Linked DNA regions of Homo sapiens. The protein of the gene in region 1 purifies or fractionates together with the protein of each later gene. This does not show direct contact. Each region holds a gene or a part of one and is shown on either strand. Other genes may lie near its edges.

Region 1 (7,187 bases):
TGGTGCTAGCTATGGTAAGGGAAAGGGACCTTTCCGAAAAACATCTTTTGGGGAAATAAAAATGTGGACTGTGCGAGGATCACTGTGGCTTTGTGGGATGGGGTACTGCAGCGGGCCTCTACCCATAAGTCAGATGAGCATTCTTGACACGGCTTTCCTGTTTGAGGTTAGAGAGGAGAGAGAAACACACCACTTGTACGTTTTATCAACTGCCAAGATCCTTTATTTTTTCCAGGCCCCTTCCTGCCCACTCCACATCGGGGCAGCTCCAGCATAAGGGAGATGACATGATGAAGGGGCTAAGAGTAGGGCCTGGCCAGCATCCACTGAGGGCCCAACCAGGGAACAGTTGCTAGCCGCTCTCTTCCATGCAGCTGGAGCACTAGCAAGGCCTTCCAGAGGCTCCCAGGGCGACCTCCACATCACTCCCGCTTGTCTCTGCCCTCCAGGGTGCTCCGGGCCTCCTCTCCCTGTGTACCCTAGAGGTGTGAGGGCCACAGTCCTCCTCAGGTGAACCTCCCTCCCCAAGCCCAGGGCCCTAGCACAGGCTGCAGTTGGACGGCTTCGAGCTGCGGCTCTGGGCCTAGAGCAAAGAGAGGGGAAGGAGGGGAAGACACAGTGCAACGTCAAGGAAATGAGGGACAGCCCTCATTTCAGAGCTCAGCATGGGCTGGAGTCATACTGAAAACCAGACGATAACCACCATTCCAAAACTCTGCACCACTAGGAAGAACCCCCATCCCTGACTTCTTCCTCCCTTCCACTGCAGCATATATCTTCAGCCCAGCCTCATACCTGCTGCCGCTGGTATTCTGCCTCACTGGCTGACAGTGCTTGTGCTAAAGCTAGGTCTTCTTCCTCCTGACAACTGGGAGGGAGAAACAGTTTAAGTTGGATGATGGTAAGATCTGAAATTTGAACATCTGATCTGTGTGTGTTGGGCCTCATGGTGCTGAGCACTGCTGAGGATTATCTCAATCTTCATAGCAACACTACAAGGTGGGTATTAGTATTGTCCCCGTTTTATAGAGGAAATGAAGGCTCCATGGGTTAAATAACTTGTCAAAGATCATATAGTTCATCTTAATTTTGAGACCAAGTTGCCAGCGATTATCTTGCATTGTGTCAGAGTGGTCCCACCTACCTGCCTCCAGACCAAGCCCTTGCCCACAGCTTGCGCTCTCTTTCACAAGAGGGTAAGGTACCTTGGAACCTGGGGTTTGGTTTCTGCCAGGGACATTTCCAGGGCCCGCTGCAGAGCTTCATCCTCACTCTACAAAGGGAGAAAGAAGACCAGCGTCCTTGGACTTCACTCTCTGTGTGTTTGTTTCTGTCCATCCAACCTCTGCCCAACTCACCAGGCCATTCTGCAAAGCAATCACTGGAGGGGCTGTCCAGGACGGAGATCGGGTTGTGGCTCTACGACAGACATTGAAGAGGTGGAGGTCAGAGGTGTGAAGGGGAAAAAGGGGGAGCAGGGAAACGGGCAGGCCTACCTGCTGGGAGAGGTACAGGAAGGCATGGTTTGACTTGGGCTGGGGACAGTGCTTGTAGAAGCCACAGCTTGTGCTCTGGAGATGGCAGCAAGTCTGTAGGGAAGAGAGATTTTTGGCATGTCTCCAAGAACTAGCCTTACCCAGGAAGTCAGGAGGGGAGTTCTGGAAAAACATGCACTTGAAAAGGAAGCTAAAAGACTCCCCTAGCCGACAGGGTAGGGTTGAAGCTCCCCAATTTATAACAACAGAGCTTGAGTCAGTTCCAAAAGAATGCTTCCCAAAAGCAAGTGGAGGACTTGGCTGCCATTACCCTGCCCGGCTGGTTGGGTGCCCCTCCCCAGAGCAATCATGGTCCAGTGGATGCCGGTGCTTGATGCAGAAGTTTCGGCTACAGCGTTCACAGGTCAGTTTCATCATTTCTCGCTGCCGGCAGCCAGCGCGTTCACACTTATTGGTGAAGATCTGAGGTGAAGTGAGAAGGTTGTCTCTGCTGAGACTCTGATTAGCTGTTTGGGTTTCCAGGCATCCGTAGTCCCAGCTGGGTTGTGGCTGACCCCTACAATGTTTACCTTACGTTTTTGCTGTGCTGGATCAGAGCGACAGTCTCTGTCAATGTGCTCTCCCACAGCACGGTCAGGGGGCTCCCCTCTGGCCACAGGCACAGGCACATTACAGAGAGGGCACACAGGTACCTGGATATCCTGTAGTCAAGGAGCAAGGGTCAGTCTGTGGCCCACTCCAGTCCAACAAATCTCTGGTCCTGAAAGAACTTGGATATGACCCACCACAAACACGCAAAAAAACAGTGTTTCCCAGCACTGACAGCCTCAGAAGGACAAAAGGGAGAAGAAACGTGAGACACAGATTTGGGGGATTCTGCACGCATTCTCCATCTGCCTGCTTTCACCCTGAGGATCGCCCCCTCACCTTTTGGTAAGCAGATCCACAGTGATGCTGGGCGTAGGCCACATGGTCTGCGCAGAAGATGCCTGAGCAGGCATCACACTTAAGCGGCAGAAAATCTGCAAAGAGTTGGTCGGATTGCAGGTCCAGCGGGACCTCGATGTCCTTCTCTCTCACTCAAGTCTTCCACTCGGGAAGGAAAACGCCACCCTATTTTCGACACACCGCCCCTTCCCAAGCCCATTACCTCCTTGGCCACGCCCCCTCTGCCGCTGACCACCCCCCCCCAGCTTCAAGCCCCGCCCCCCGGCATTGCCAGCCTGGGAGCCCACCCTTCCCTCCCAACCTGCGGTTCAAAGTCCCTGTCCGCTGGGCCCCGCCCCCCGCGCGCTCCGCCCCTCACCCAAGCGCTGACAGCTCGGCTCCGAACAGTGAGCGCCGAGGTCCGGAAACTCCATCGCCAAGCCGGGCAGGGTCTGCTAGGAGAAGCGACGAGTGCTGAGCGTCTTTAGGGCTCGTGCTCGAAGTCCGCACCGCGACCCCGCACTCTGGCGGGCTCCCTGCCCCGCCCCTTCCTCTCCCCCGCCCAGCCCGGGTTACCGGAGCCCCCGCGCCAGCCGGCCCCCGGCGCCCGCTCCTCCCTCGGCGCGCGCGGCGCGCTGACGTCATCCCGCAGGGCTGGCGCGTCCGGCGCAGTCTCCGGGCAGCCGGGGAGGGCCTCGGTTGAGCCCCGCCCCGCCTCGCCTTGCTCTAGAAGGCTGAGTCGGAAGACTGTCCCGAGGCGAGAGGGTGTTGATGCGCGGCTCCGCCACCCTGGGCGCGGGCGTAGCTCCGCAGAGGAAGGCCAGCGAAGGCAAAGACGGATATCTTGGGGGATGGAAGGCTGGGTGGTTTGGGGTCTTTCACAATTCGGTCCTTAGCCCGCTTCACACACGATGCCCTCCTCCTGGCCATTTTGTTCACGGCCACGGCTGCCCTTCGCCTCCACGAGCTGACAGCTCCTGTATTTCTCTGAAGTACAGACGTCTCTAGAGCTGCAGATCCCTCCTCAGTCTGAACTAGGCGCACCTGCTATGTGATCTTACTTCTTCCATTCTAGCACCCATATCACTAATGCGACCAACCCCTATATGAGCATACTGGGAAATCAGGAACCACGTCTACCTTGTTTCGTGTTAGGTCCCAGCACCTAACAGTGCCTAGAACAGTGTGGTCCTCAGTCTTTAGTGTGAATCCAAATCGCCTACGGAGCTAGTTTAAAATGCGGATTTCCGGGCCCTGGAGCTTCTAATTCAGTAGGAAGCACCTGAAGGAATTCTGACACAGATTGCCATGCACCACACTCTGAAAAACCCTAGCCTAGAATATTCTTAGTAATTATTGAATGTAGCCAGGACTACAGGCACAAGCCACCGTGCTCAGCTAATTTTTAATTTTGTAGAAATGGGGTTGGGGAGGGGTCTCTCTTTGTTGCCCAGATTGGTCTCGAACTCCTGGCCTTAAGTGATCCTCCTGCCTTGGCCTCCCAAAGTGCTGGGATTACAGACGTGAGCCACCACACCTGACCAATATAATTTTTTTTTTTTTGAGACACAGTGTCACTCTTGTCACCCAGGCTGGAGTGCAGTGGCATGATCTCGGCTCACTGCAACCTCTGCTTCCCGGGTTCAAGCGATTCTCCTGCCTCAGCCTCCCAAGTAGTTGGGACTACAGGTGCACACCACTGCGTCCAGCTAATTTTTGTATTTTTAGAGACGGCGTTTCACCATGTTGCCCAGGCTGGTCTCGAACTCCTGACCTCGTGATCTGCCCGCCTCGGCCTCCCAAAGTGCTGGGATTACAGGCATGAGCCACCACTCCCAGCCAATATTCTTTTTATTTTAAATTGCATCCAGGACTTTATAAATGCTTTTATTTTGTTTCAATATATAACTGTCAGATTTCAAATAATTTTTTCCCAGTCTCATTATAATCATTTGGTTCTAAGAATTTTGTTTATTCATTTTTTTTCCTCTCTATATTCATCAGTACAATTTAGAATTGTAGGCTTCCAGTCCCGGCATGGTGGCTGACGCTTGTAATTTCAGCACTTTGGGAGGCTGACGCAGGAGGATCGCTTGAGCCTAGGAGTTCCAGCCTGGGCAACATAGTGAGACCCTGTCTCTACAAAAATAGAAAGAATTGTAGGCTTTCAGTTTGGAGAAACGTGTATGGAGCAGACTAAACAAAGATAAACACTGCCTCTCTCCCCACTCCCACTTTACAAATGCTCAGATAACCAAAGCCTTGTGGAACTCAAAAAATAAAAATCTTCGGATCTCATTTTTGAGCATGAGCCAGAATGCTTGAAGTGCAAATGTAGTCATTTGTTCTTATGTTGCTATACAGAAATACCTCGCTAGGCATGGTGGCTCATGCCTGTAATCCCATCCCTCGGAGGCCAAGGTGGGAGGGTCACTCGAGTCCAGGAGTTTGAGACCAGCCTGGGCAACATAGTAAGACCTCCCTCTCTACAAAAAAAATTTTTAAAAAGTTAGCTGGGCATGGTGGCATCCACCCGTTGTCCCAAATACTCGAGAGGCTTTGGTGGGAGGATTGCTTGAGCCTAGGAGCTCGAAGTTGCAGTGAGCTATGATTGTACCACTGTGCTTCAGCTGGATAACAAAGTGAGACCCTGTCTTTAAAAAAAAAAAAAAATCTGAGGCTGGTTGATTTATAAAGAAAGAGGTTTAATTTATTCATGGTTCTGCAGACTGCATAGGAAGCATGGTGCCAGCATCTGCTCAGCTTCTGGTGAGGCCTCAGGAAGCTTCTAATCATTGCAGAAGGCCTAGGGGGAACAGGCATGTCACATGGCAAGAGTGGGAGCAAGAGAGAGAAGAGGGAGGTCCCAGAGTCTTTTCAAAACCAGATCTGATGTGAACTGAGTGAGAATTCACTCATCACCAAGAGGATGGCACTAAGCCATTCATGAGGGGTCCACTCTCAGGTTCCAATCACCTCCTGCCAGGTCCCACCTCTGACATTGGGAATACATTTCTTTTTCTTTTCTTTTTTTTTTTTTTTTTTTCTTTTTTGAGACAGAATCTCACTCTGTCGCCCAGGCTGGAGTGCAGTGGCACAGTCTCAGCTCACTGCAACCTCCGCCTCCCGGGTTCATACCATTCTCCTGCCTCAGCCTCCCAAGTAGCTAGGATTACAGGCGCATGCCACCACGCCCGGCTAATTTTTTGTATTTTTAGGAGAGATGGGGTTTCACCGTGTTAGCCAGGATGGTCTCGATCTCCTGACCTCGTGATCCGCCCGCCTCGGCCTCCCAAAGTGCTGGAATTACAGGCATGAGCCACTGCGCCCGGCGGGAATACATTTCAACATGAGATTTGGAGGGGACACATATCCAGACCATATCATGCCATAACAGACTTACCTCAGAGACCCCAGCGACCACGATAAAAGTGAATGAAGCTCTCACGGTAGTATCTCTCTTCCCAGGCAAATATTTTTCTGACTGATGGGTTATAGTCCTGACTAAGCTCTCTGTGCTGATTACCAGCCCAGGGGCTTTCTCACTGGGTGATGTTCTCATCCCACGATTTAAAAAGAGTGCCCGCACAAACCAAAGTCACCATTCCCCAATGTAGCCTCCTTGCTTCCTGAATAAAAGAAGCCAGGAGAACACTGAGAGAGAAATCAAATAACATTTTGCAACTTGAATTAGCTATTTTAGGAGATATCAATTAACAACTGAGCATTACTTAAGTCTCTTTTATTGTAGACCAACAAAGCATACACAGACCTGCTAAGCAGCCTTGCGCTTTAGCTGTGGGTAACTGAGCTGCAGCCTCTCATTGGGACAGTAGACATAGGTTCCTCTAAAATTCGCAGGCATAGTCATAGCCAGACGCCAGTTATTTTAGCTTTAGCAGGTCTAAAGCAGACAAGGTCAAACTGAGGATAGCCAGAAAAGGTGTCTTGGCTCCAATTCAACTTGAATATTAGTTTAATGGTATTTGTCTCAGTGGTTTTCCGCCTCTCAATTGACTCTTAGTGAAACAGTGCATATAGAAATGGAAGGAAAAGGCCAGGCACGATGGCTCATGCCTATAATCCCAACACTTTGGGAGGCTGAGGTGGGCAGATCACCAGAAGCCAGGAGTTCAAGACCACCCTGGCCAACATGGTGAAACCCTGTCTTTACTAAAAATACAAAAATCAGCCAGGCATGGTGGCAACAGAGCGAGACTATGTCTCAATTAATAAAGAAACAGGAAAAAAAAGAAATGGAAAGAAAAACTAGCACTTATTGTTGTGTCCTGCTCTTCCTCATGTGTTAGCTTATTTAATCCCCTGTGAAAATCCTTTGAAGTAGGCCGGGCACGGTGGCTCACGCCTGTAATCCCAGCACTTTGGGAGGCCAAGGCGGGCAGATCACAAGGTCAGGAGATCGAGACCATCCTGGCTAGCACGGTGAAACCCTGTCTCTACTAAAAATACAAAAAATTAGCTGGGCGTGGTGGCGGGCACCTGTGGTCCCAGCTACTCGGGAGGCTGAAGCAGGAGAATGGCGTGAACCCAGGAGGCGGAGCTTGCAGTAAGCCGAGATTGTGCCACTGCACTCCAGCTTGGGCAACAGAGTGAGACTCTGTCTCAAAAAAAAAAAAAAAAAAAGAAAGAAAATCTTTTGAAAAAGATATCATGTATCCCCATTTTGCAGATAAAAAATCTGAAGTTGAGAGAGATTAAATTACTTGCTACGAAGTCAGAATCTGGACCTAAATTTTTGTATTG
Region 2 (4,311 bases), on another chromosome or scaffold:
TGGATCTTAGGCCCACCTAGGAATGAGCCTGGTGGTAGATTGTTTGAAGAGATGGATCCTCTCTTGCAAAGGAAGCTCTGGAAAAGTGCATTCTCTTACTGTACTGTCTCTCTAAATTTAGCTAATTAGATCACAGGTTCCTTCCCAGAGTCCAGGCAAGTGTTCACTTCTTCCAAAAAACGAAAAAAGGAATCCTTTTCCCTCTCCTCCCACAATGTGATACTACATTTCATTCTGTAGCCTTATTTAAACAGTTACCAAAACAGCTCACAAAATCATTTGAGAATAAACTGGGATACATAGCAATGGGCCCAGGAGTCCCCTTCCTTTTGGTGCTGCCAGTGACAACCTTTAGCTATAAAAGGAGGGTCATAAAGGAGACTTGACCATTCACTTGACCACCCCTCATTCATATGCTTTCCCCAACACACCAAACTAGTGCCTATTTGACCCCCATTTCATTTGATTATTAATTTTTTCACATCTTAAATGCTGATTCAATTTACTGTCAATAGAGGAGTAAAACAGAGTCACAGAGAAGGAGTTATTCTAAACCTTTATTGAAAGGCAAATGCAGAAAGCCTTCAACACAGAGGATAGATTTAGTGACTGAGGGCCCACTGGAGTTTAACTAATAGATCTGCTGACTACGCCGTACAGTGGAGGAAACACGCTGCAATCTCAAGACAATGCAGGTAACTCAATCTGAAATCCATCAAAAAGAGGACAACTTGCTCAGGTACAAGGCCCCTGAAAAGTAACTCATCAAATGACAATAGGAACTGTGTGGACACTCCCTCTGTAACATGCACTAGGATATCACTCTCCTATATTAGAGGAGCTCCAAGCAGTGTATCATGCTCAAATATTTATTAATTGACAGTGTCCGACAACCTCCTGTCCATAAAGCATGGCAGAGTGGGTAATTAATTGGAAAGAGTTGGCAGTAGAACTTTAAGAACAATTATACCTTCTACATCTTACCACTCCCCATTCCTAGTGACAACTTTCTCATCTCGGCGAATTCTCTTGTGTACTGTTTCTGGAACATATATTACTAAATTCCTGTCTCCTTTACAAAATGCTGTATCTTGGGCAAAAGACATATGTATTGTGCTTGTATTGTGTATCTAATGTGTACATATATGCATATTCTCACAAATATGGTATACATTTATATTATGCATGTGTATGGACATATATCTGCATATTGTAAAATGAAATAGAATTTTTTTTTTCTTGAGATGGAGTCACACTCTGTTGCCTAGGCTGGAGTGCAATGGTGCAAGCTTGGCTCACTGCAACCTCCGGCTCTTGGGCTCAAGCGATTCTCCTGCCTCAGCCTGCCACTCGGCAGGGTGGGATTACAGGTGCTCACCACCAAGCCCGGCTAATTTTTGTATTTTTAGTAGAGATGGGGTTTCACCATGGTGGCCAGGCTGGTCTCAAACTCCTGACCTTAAGTGATCTGCCCACTTTGGCCTCCTACAGTGATGGGATTACAGGCTTGAGCCACCATGCCCGGCCTGAAGTAGAATTTTTTTAAATGAACGGTCGGAGATCGAGCTAAAGGCTATAAAATGGCAGGGTTCTAATCAGCTCAGATTGTTTTCAGTAGAAATGTACGCAAAGTCTTTGGAGTTAAATGATGAACTGCCACTTATTTATTTATTTATTTGTTTATTTTTTGATATGTCTCACTCTTTTGCCCAGGCTGGAGTGAAGTGGAGTGATCTTTGCTTACTGTAACCTCTGCCTCCCTGGCTCCAGCGATCCTCCTGCCTCAGCCTCCTGAGTAGCTGGAATTATAGGCACCCACCACCACATCTTGCTAATTTTGGTATTTTTAATAGAGACAAGGTTTCACCATGTTGGCCACGCTGGTCTCGAACTCCTGAACTCAGGTGATCCACCTGCCTTGGCCTCCCAAAGTGCTAGGATTACAGGCTTGAGCCACCACACCCAGCCTAAACTGCCAGTTTACATCAGTTATAATTTTTTTTTGTTTTTTTGAGACAGGGTCTCACTTTGTTGCCCAGACTGGAGGGCAGTGGCACAACCATGGCTCACTGCAGCTTCAAGTAATCTTCCCACCTCAGCCTCCCAGGTAGCTAGGACTACAGGTGCATGCCACCACGCCCAGCTAATTTTTCGTATTTTTTGTAGAGATGGGGTTTTGTCATGTTGCCCAGGCTAGTCTCGAACTTCTGAGCTCAAGTGATCTACCTGCCTCGGCTTTTCAAAGTGCTGGGATTACAGGTATGAGCCACCATGCCCAGCCTCAGTTACAACTTTTTTTTTTTTTTTGAGATGGAGTTTCCCTCTTGTTGCCCAGGCTGGAGTACAATGTTGCAATCTCAGCTCACTGCAACCTCCGCCTTCCAGGTTCAAGCAATTCTCCTGTCTCAGTCTCCCAAGCAGCTGGGATTACAGGCATGTGCCACCACGCCCGGCTAATTTTTTGTATTTAGTAGAGACACAGCTTGTTTCACCATATTGGCCCGGCTGGTCTCAAACTCCCGATCTCAGGTGATCCACCTGCCTCGGCCTCTCAAGGTGCTGGGATTATAGGCATGAGCCACTGTGCCTGGCAGTTATAACTCTTAAAGCAACACAAGGCTCTTGGTAGCCTGATTACAATGAGAATTAATTAAGTACACTATTTTCCACAGTACACTCCCACGAAGTTTTTAGTGCTGCCATAATGTTTGTAGTAAAAAGAATCAACATTTTCAATTTGTTTTTTGGGGTTTTGTTTGTTTTGTTTTGTTTAGGCAAGGTCTTGATCTGTCACCCAGGCTGGAGTGCAGTGGTGCAATCACAATTCACTGCAGCTTCAATTTCCTGGGCTCAAGTCATCCTCCCATCTCAGCCTCCTGATAGCTGAGACTACAGGCGTGCAATTTAAAAAAAAATTATTTTGTGGAGTCTGGACCTCACTACATTGCCTAGAACGGTCTCAAACTCCTGGGCTCAAGAGATCCTCCTGCTGCAGCCTCACAAAGTGTTGGGATCACAGGCGTAAGCCACTTCACCTGGCCTTGATTCTTTTTAAGCTCAATAAAAATGGAACTTTGTCTTGCTGTCATGGCCAGAGTTAAAATACAGTCAAACAACAAAGACCTCATAGAGTTAAAGCTCACAAAACTGATACTTAAAAATAACTTATTAAATAAGTATTGCAGGCACTACAACAGGTCTCAAGATACAGTGGTGAGCAAGAAAAACAGGATCTCTTGCTTTCATGAAGTTCAACTAGAAAGTCCTGTCGAATGATGAGACATCTTTCTTTGGGGCAGCAAGTTACTTTCACTTAGTGGTAAAAGGGCCAAGAATAGTTCAGGAACTTCTCATCCACTTGTCTACCCTTCTACACAGACAGCAGCACAGATCTGGCTTTTTACATGGCCCTAGGCCGGGTGCAGTGGCTCACGCCTGTAATCCCAGCACTTTGGGAGGTGGAGGAGTTCAAGACCAGTTCAAGACCTCACTTTGGGAGATCAGGAGTTCAAGACCAGCCTGGCCAACATGGTGAAACCCCATCTGTACTAAAAATACAAAAATTAGCTGAGCATGGTGGTGCACACCTGTAGTCTCAGCTACTTGGGAGGCTGAGGCAGGAGAATCGCTTGAATCTGGGAGGCAGAAGTTGCAGTGAGCCAAGATTGCGCCACACTATACTCCAGCCTGGGTGAGAGTCAGACCCCGTCTCAAAAACAACAAAAGGCCCTAGACAACACCCATCCATGGAATTCTTTCAAATTCCCTATAGCTTGTGCTATCAGTTGTTATTTAGTACCTGGCAAGATGATATTAGGGGAACTCATATTTAAGGAGTTCATGGAGACCTCCTTTTGTAAATACTGGCCTGACTCCTTAAGGTTGAAAGCTTGGTCATTATTCTGTTTAATCTATCACTGATAAAAGTTATCACATAACCCATTGTCTGCAAATGAACTATAAAAAACACCTTAGAAATACAAGGGGATTGCACTGTGACCTGTAGGTCAAAGCTAATTCTAGGTGAGAGGGTGAAGAAACAAATATGCTGGTTGTTTTCACCTAAATTCTGATCCTATGAATTTAAAATTCCTTCTCATGCAATCATTTTGTCATGGAATTGATTACAATGAACAAAATCCAAAGTGCTCAGGTCACTGCCTCTTCAGTTTAGTGCTTACACTGTAGGATACACCATCCAAGAGGCTGTAAGGGTGGCCAAGCAAAGGGAAGACAACTTCAGTTGGGGGGGTGGAAGCACAGATTCAATGGAAATAAGGGTATACATCATTTAACAACAAAATCAAGAAA
Region 3 (7,118 bases), on another chromosome or scaffold:
GTACATCTGTAGTCCCAGCTAGTCGCCTGGCTTAAAAATTTTTATTCTTATTTTTTGTAGCGGTGGAGTCCTGCTCTGTTGCCCAGGCTGGTCTCAAACTCCTGACTTCAAGCAGTCCTCTCTCCTTGGCTTCCCAAAATGCTGGGATTATAGGTATAAGCCACTGTGCCTGGCCTTTATACATCATTTTTTATTATTTTCTGCTTTAACTGAGGGAGAAGGCAATTCACCTCTTGGGAGAGTTGGGAATGCCGCTCACCTTTTGAGAAGTAAGTCATTTTAAAAATCATTTACAGGCTAGGCACAGTGGCCCATGCCTGTACCCAGCACTCTGGGAGTCCAAGGCAGGAGGATCACTTGAGCCCAGGAGTTTGAGACCAGCCTAGGCAACATAGTGAGACCTTGTCTCTACAAAAAAATAAACAAAATAGGCTGGTTGTAGTGGCTCACACCTGTAATCCCATCACTTTGGGAGGCTGGGGTGGGCAGATCAATTGAGGCCAGGAATTCAAGACCAGCCTGGCCAACATAATGAAACCCCATCTCTACTAAAAATATAAAAATCGGAGGGAAGGGATAGCATTAGGAGATGTACCTAATGTTAAATGACGAGTTAATGGGTGCAGCACACCAGCATGGCACATGTATACATATGTAACTAACCTGCACATTGTGCACGTGTACCCTAAAACTTAAAGTATAATAATAAAAAAAAATCTACTAAAAAAAATAAAAATAAAAAAAAAATCAGCTGGGCATGGTGGCACACGCCTGTAATCCCAGCTACTCCGGAGGCTAAGGCACAAGAATCGCTTGAACCCAGGAGGCAGAGGTTGCAGTGAGCCGAGGTTGCGCCACTGCACTCCAGCCTGTGTTACTGAGCAAGACTCTGTCTCAAAAAATAAAATTAGCTGGATGTGGTAGTGTGTGCCTGTAGTCCCAGCTGCTCGAGAGGCTGGGATGGAAGGATTGCTTGAGCCTAGGAGGTCAGGGCTGCAGTGAGCTGTGATTGTGCCATTGCATTCCAGGCTGGGTGACAGAGTGAGACCATGTCTCAAAAACAAACATAACTGTGCTCCTTTTCTATTTCTTATTCTCTTTTTATTTGAGCTTACTGAAAGATGATTCATCCATTTATTAATCACCTACTATATTTCAGCCAGTCTTCTGGATACTGAATAAAATAAATAAAACTGCCCTTATAGATCTTACATGCTAGAGATGTGGGACTAGACGTGATTTGCTGATGACTTGGATGTTAAGTATGAGAGAAAAGGAGGAGTTGGGATGATTCAAAAAATTTTGGCCTGAGAAGTAGGTGAATTGTGTTCCATTTACTAATTGGAGGAGGAGGAGTTGTATTGGGATGGGGCAGGGGAAATAAAAGTTTTCTTTGGACATGTTCAGTTTGAGGTTTCCAGTCTAGCCTAGGTGTTCACTGCCTACCAGCAAGCAATTGGATAGATACCACCTGTATCAGGACAGAACCTGAAGTATGTTGCTTACAAGTAAAGGATCCACTACTAAGTTAGCAGTCCTTTTATTCCGAGGAAGCAAAATGAAGAAGAAAAGTCTTAGAAAATGTTAGAGTTGATGGATATATCCCTATAGTTCTTCCCAAACTTATTTATTATGGTTTAATTGACATAGAACAAAGTAAAATGGAAAGTTGGATAATTAAAGCCAAAGTCCCTACTTTTTTCTTAATAACTTATGTGGGAATTATTGTTGCTGGGAATGTGTCTGGAATTGCATATCTTGGTCCATCATTTCTGGAGCATTTGCAGCTGGTTGTTTTTTAATAAAAGTGTACATGTATGCATGTGTATAAAAGATTTGTTATTCTGATAATGGCTTATGCATGAAGTGATTGCTGATACTGAAATTACAAAAGTGAGGCTGGGCGCGGTGGCTCACGCCTGTGATCCTAGCACTTTGGGAGGCCAAGGCAGAAGGATAGCTTGAGCCCAGGAGTTCAAGACCACCCTGGGCAACATAGGGGGACCCCATCTCTCCAAAAAAAAGTTAAAAAATTAGCTGGACATGCCAGCCCATGTTTGTAATCTCAGCTATTGGGAAGCTCAGGCAGGAGGATCACTTGTTCCTGAGAGGCTAAGGCTGTAGTGAGTTGTAATCATGCCCCTGCACTTCAGCCTGAGCAACAGAGTGAGACCCTGTCTTTAAAAAAAACACAAAAACTATAAAAGTGAGTTTGGAAAACAAAAAGTGAATCTGAAATTTCTCTATTCTTTATTCTGAAAGATCTATATCTGTATATTTTCTATAGCTATACCTATATATAGGTATATGTGGAAATATCTGAACTCTTTTTTTTTTTTTTTACGATGTTTCTTTTTTTCTTTTTTTCTTTTTTATTTATTTTTTTTTTTATTGATCATTCTTGGGTGTTTCTCGCAGAGGGGGATTTGGCAGGGTCACAGGACAATAGTGGAGAGAAGGTCAGCAGATAAACAAGTGAACAAAGGTCTCTGGTTTTCCTAGGCAGAGGACCCTGCGGCCTTCCGCAGTGTTTGTGTCCCTGGGTACTTGAGATTAGGGAGTGGTGATGACTCTTAAGGAGCATGCTGCCTTCAAGCATCTGTTTAACAAAGCACATCTTGCACCGCCCTTAATCCATTCAACCCTGAGTGGATACAGCACATGTTTCAGAGAGCACAGGGTTGGGGGTAAGGTCACCGATCAACAGGATCCCAAGGCAGAAGAATTTTTCTTAGTACGGAACAAAATGAAAAGTCTCCCATGTCTACCTCTTTCTACACAGACACGGCAACCATCCGATTCTCAATCTTTTCCCCACCTTTCCCCCCTTTCTATTCTACAAAACCGCCATTGTCCTCATGGCCCGTTCTCAATGAGCTGTTGGGTACACCTCCCAGACGGGGTGGTGGCCGGGCAGAGGGGCTCCTCACTTCCCAGTAGGCGCGGCCAGGCAGAGGCGCCCCTCACCTCCCGGACGGGGCGGCTGGCCGGACGGGGGGGCTGACCCCCCAGACCTCCCTCCCCGACGGGGCGGCTGGCCGGGCGGGGGGGCTGACCCCCCCACCTCCCTCCTGGACGGGGCGGCTGGCCGGGCAGAGGGGCTCCTCACTTCCCAGTAGGGGCGGCCGGGCAGAGGCGCCCCTCACCTCCCAGACGGGGCGGCTGGCCGGGCAGAGTGGCTCCTCACTTCCCAGTAGGGGCGGCCGGGCAGAGGCGCCCCTCACCTCCCGGACGGGGCGGCTGGCCGTGCGGGGGGCTGACCCCCCCACCTCCCTCCCGGACGGGGCGGCTGGCCGGGCGGGGGGCTGACCCCCCCCACCTCCCTCCCGGACGGGGCGGCTGGCCGTGTGGGGGGCTGACCCCCCCACTTCCCTCCCGGACGAGGTGGCTGCCAGGCGGAGACGCTCCTCACTTCCCAGACGGGGTGGCTGCTGGGCGGAGGGGCTCCTCACTTCTCAGACGGGGTGGCTGCTGGGCGGAGGGGCTCCTCACTTCTCAGACGGGGCGGTTGCCAGGCAGAGGGTCTCCTCACTTCTCAGACGGGGCGGCCGGGCAGAGACGCTCCTCACATCCCGGACAGGGTGGCAGGGCAGAGGTGCTCCCCACATCTCAGACGATGGGCGGCCGGGCAGAGACGCTCCTCACTTCCCAGATGTGATGGCGGCCGGGAAGAGGCGCTCCTCACTTCCTAGATGGGATGGCGGCCGGGCAGAGAGGCTCCTCACTTTCCAGACTGGGCGGCCGGGCAGAGAGGCTCCTCACTTTCCAGACTGGGCAGCCAGGCAGAGGGGCTCCTCACATCCCAGAAGATGGGCGGCCAGGCAGAGATGCTCCTCACTTCCCAGACAGGGTGGCGGCCGGGCAGAGGCTGCAATCTCGGCACTTTGGGAGGCCAAGGCAGGCTGCTGGGAGGTGGAGGTTGTAGCGAGCCGAGATCACACCACTGCACTCCAGCCTGGGGCACCATTGAGCACTGAGTGAACGAGACTCCGTCTGCAATCCCGGCACCTCGGGAGGCCGAGGCTGGCGGATCACTCATGGTTAGGAGCTGCAGACCAGCCCAGCCAACACAGCGAATCCCCGTCTCCACCAAAAAAACACGAAAACCAGTCAGGCGTGGCGGCGCGCGCCTGCAATTGCAGGCACTCGGCAAGCTGAGGCAGGAGAATCAGGCAGGGAGGTTGCAGTGAGCTGAGATGGCAGCAGTACCGTCCAGCTGGGCATCAGAGGGAGACCGTGGAAAGAGAGGGAGAGGGAGACCGTGGGGAGAGGGAGGGGGAGGGGAAGGGGGAGGGAGAGGGAGAGGGAGAGGGAGAGGGAGAAGGAGAGGGAGAGGGAGAGGAATAGCTGAACTCTTGAATCCTCCTGGTGCATCTTAGAACATTATCTTTTGTGTAAGTGGGTTCCTAAGAATTAGGAGAGGTATCTTAATTTTCTTTTTATTTTTTATATTTACTTTAAAATTTTTTGTAGAGATGGAGTCTCATTATATTGCCCAGGCTGGTCTCGAACTCCTGGGCTCAAGTAATCTTCCTGCCTTGGCCTCCCAGAGTGTTGGGATTACACAGGTGTGAGCCACTGCACCTGGTCTTAATTTTAAAATAAAATAGCAGGGCTGGGCACGGTGGCCTATAATCCCAGCACTCTGGGAGGCTGAGATGGGAGAATCACTTGAGCTCAGGAGTTTGAGACTAACTTGGGCAACATGGTGAAACTCTGTCTCTACCGAAAAATACAGAAATAAGGCACAGTGGTGTGCGCCTGTAGTCCCAGCTACTCGGGAGGCTGAGGCAGGAGAATCACTTGAGCCTGGGAGGCAGAGGTTGCAGTGAGCTGAGATGGGGACATTGCACTCCAGCCTGGGTGATGGGAGTGAAACTCTGTCAAACAAACAAACAAACAAACAAATAAATAAATGCAACACATGGAAACTATGGAAATGAAATGGGGATAGGGAAAACTTTTTAGCTGAAGCATTAGACTTCAGATGATTAGAGGAATATCTTTTTGTTTGAAGAAGTAAAAGGTGTTTACTTCAGCCTTGTTGGGAGGTTGGTGATGATAACTCAACCTTTACATCAAACACAAGTCCTTTTGTTGGGAAACACAGGCTTCAGGAAGTCTTGGAAGAGTGAAAAAAGGGAAGTTTATAACATATTTCAAGGGAATAAGAGTATTTCATTATTTCTAACACATTGTTTGTTTTCTCTTTGAACAGATAACATGCCTGGACATTTCCAGCAGAGGAGGTCTTGGTGTGTCTTCTAGTACTGACGGGACCATGAAAATCTGGCAGGCTTCCAATGGAGAACTCAGGGTAAAGGATTTGGATGTACTTTTAGGTCTTAAACACAAAGGGTGGTCTGAGAAGCCTTGGACTGGGACATGGAAGGAAGAATGGCCCATTCTAAAAATGTGGGACCACTCTGCATGTCAGTTGATCTCTTTTCTCCCATTTGTGTGTTTCTTTTTCTTTTTCTCTTTTTTTTTTTTTTTTTTTTTTTGAGACAGTCTTGCTGTGTTGCCCAGGCTGGAGTGCAGTGGTGTGATCTCAGCTCACTGCAACCTCCGCCTCCTGGGTTCAAGCGATTCTTGTGCCTCAGCCTCCCAAGTAGCTGAGATTACAGGCATGTGCCACCACACACATCTAATTTTTGTATTTTTAGTAGAGATGGGCTTTCGCCATGTCGGCCAGGCTGGTTTCCAACTCCTCACGTCAAGTGATCTGCCCACCTTGGCCTCCCAAAGTGCTGGGATTACAGGTGTGAGCCACCGCTCCTGGCCTCTCAGCTGTCAATTCGAGAACCTTTCTCAAGCTCAGTGATTTGGCAGAACAGAGTGGGGCTGGAGCAGTTAAGGAGCCAGACCAGTGAAGGTCTAAGTGGGTGTGCCCTTGTTTTTTAATTGCCTTCAGTGATCCATTTCCAAGACAGAATAGCTTGGCTGTTAGACTGAATCTATGGCTGAGCCTCCAACCTTTACAAAGGATTTTAAACAGAGATGAGTGAAAAAGTCCCCAAGCCACCTCAGCTCTTTAACTAGATCTAGAGATGGCTGTGAAAGCCATGGAATTCTTTTTTTTTTTTTTTAACCTAGGCTCTGGGGTGTTTTTACATGGAATTCAGTTCTATAACCTCTATAGCTGAATTCGAGGAAACACCTTTTAGAACACTGCCTGCTAGACAAATGAGCTAAGAGATCCTTTGGATATCCTTAGTTTTAAAACCCAGCATGTGGGTTTAGCATGTAGGTATTTCATATAAGGGACCAGAGTATGGGAGGTAAGAGAACATCAAGGGATGGACAAGAGAACTAGCATGGAATTTTCTTTTGTTTTTCCAGAGAGTATTGGAAGGACATGTGTTTGATGTGAATTGTTGCAGGTTTTTCCCATCAGGCCTTGTGGTCCTGAGTGGGGGAATGGATGCCCAGCTGAAGATATGGTCAGCTGAAGATGCTAGCTGCGTGGTGACCTTCAAAGGTCACAAAGGAGGTATGAAGTGTGCTTTCTCCAAAAGGCTTCTCTAATGATCCCCAGAAATGAATCACTGAAAAGGTAGAAACAAGCTAGTTTATTCACAAATACACAAATAATCCATCCAGCTGGGCATTTAGATGAGCTGCCATTTCCCTAAGGACCAGAAATTCCTTTGCCACACAGTCTTTTTATTGCTATCTTGAACTGTCTTACACAGTTGGTTTGATACCTAAAGCCTTTTCCAGCTGGGTGCAGTGGTGCATGCCTGTAATCCCAGCTTTAAAAGTTGTTTTCTGGCCGGGCGCGGTGGCTCACGCCTGTAATCCCAGCACTTTGGGAGGCCGAGGCGGGCGGATCACGAGGTCAGGAGATGGAGACCATCCCGGCTAAAACGGTGAAACCCCGTCTCTACTAAAAATACAAAAAATTAGCCGGGCGTAGTGGCGGGCGCCTGTAGTCCCAGCTACTTGGGAGGCTGAGGCAGGAGAATGGCGTGAACCCGGGAGGCGGAGCTTGCAGTGAGCCGAGATCCCGCCACTGCACTCCAACCTGGGCGACAGAGCGAGACTCCGTCTCAAAAAAAAAAAAAAAAAAAAAAAAAAAAAAAAAGTTGTTTTCTACAATTGATAAAGGAAAAAAA

Evidence for each region.
Region 2: the proteins of ZFAND2B (region 1) and GLUL purify together in Homo sapiens (affinity purification with mass spectrometry; 3 studies listed by BioGRID and IntAct, with this or other methods). This does not show direct contact.
Region 3: the proteins of ZFAND2B (region 1) and PAAF1 purify together in Homo sapiens (affinity purification with mass spectrometry; 3 studies listed by BioGRID and IntAct, with this or other methods). This does not show direct contact.

The regions. Positions count from the first base shown.
Region 1 is NC_000002.12:219,202,658-219,209,844, reverse strand, and holds ZFAND2B (AN1-type zinc finger protein 2B), read right to left. Parts: upstream 3,064-7,187; 5' UTR 2,858-3,063; coding exon 2,803-2,857; intron 2,519-2,802; coding exon 2,424-2,518; intron 2,198-2,423; coding exon 2,066-2,197; intron 1,959-2,065; coding exon 1,807-1,958; intron 1,590-1,806; coding exon 1,497-1,589; intron 1,420-1,496; coding exon 1,359-1,419; intron 1,274-1,358; coding exon 1,206-1,273; intron 869-1,205; coding exon 796-868; intron 584-795; coding exon 539-583; coding exon of another isoform or gene 223-538; 3' UTR 197-222; downstream 1-196. UniProt on the Homo sapiens protein: Plays a role in protein homeostasis by regulating both the translocation and the ubiquitin-mediated proteasomal degradation of nascent proteins at the endoplasmic reticulum.
Region 2 is NC_000001.11:182,377,555-182,381,865, forward strand, and holds the end of GLUL (glutamine synthetase), read right to left. Parts: 3' UTR 544-4,311; downstream 1-543. UniProt on the Homo sapiens protein: Glutamine synthetase that catalyzes the ATP-dependent conversion of glutamate and ammonia to glutamine.
Region 3 is NC_000011.10:73,893,928-73,901,045, forward strand, and holds part of PAAF1 (proteasomal ATPase-associated factor 1), read left to right. Parts: intron 1-5,218; coding exon 5,219-5,317; intron 5,318-6,342; coding exon 6,343-6,493; intron 6,494-7,118. UniProt on the Homo sapiens protein: Inhibits proteasome 26S assembly and proteolytic activity by impairing the association of the 19S regulatory complex with the 20S core.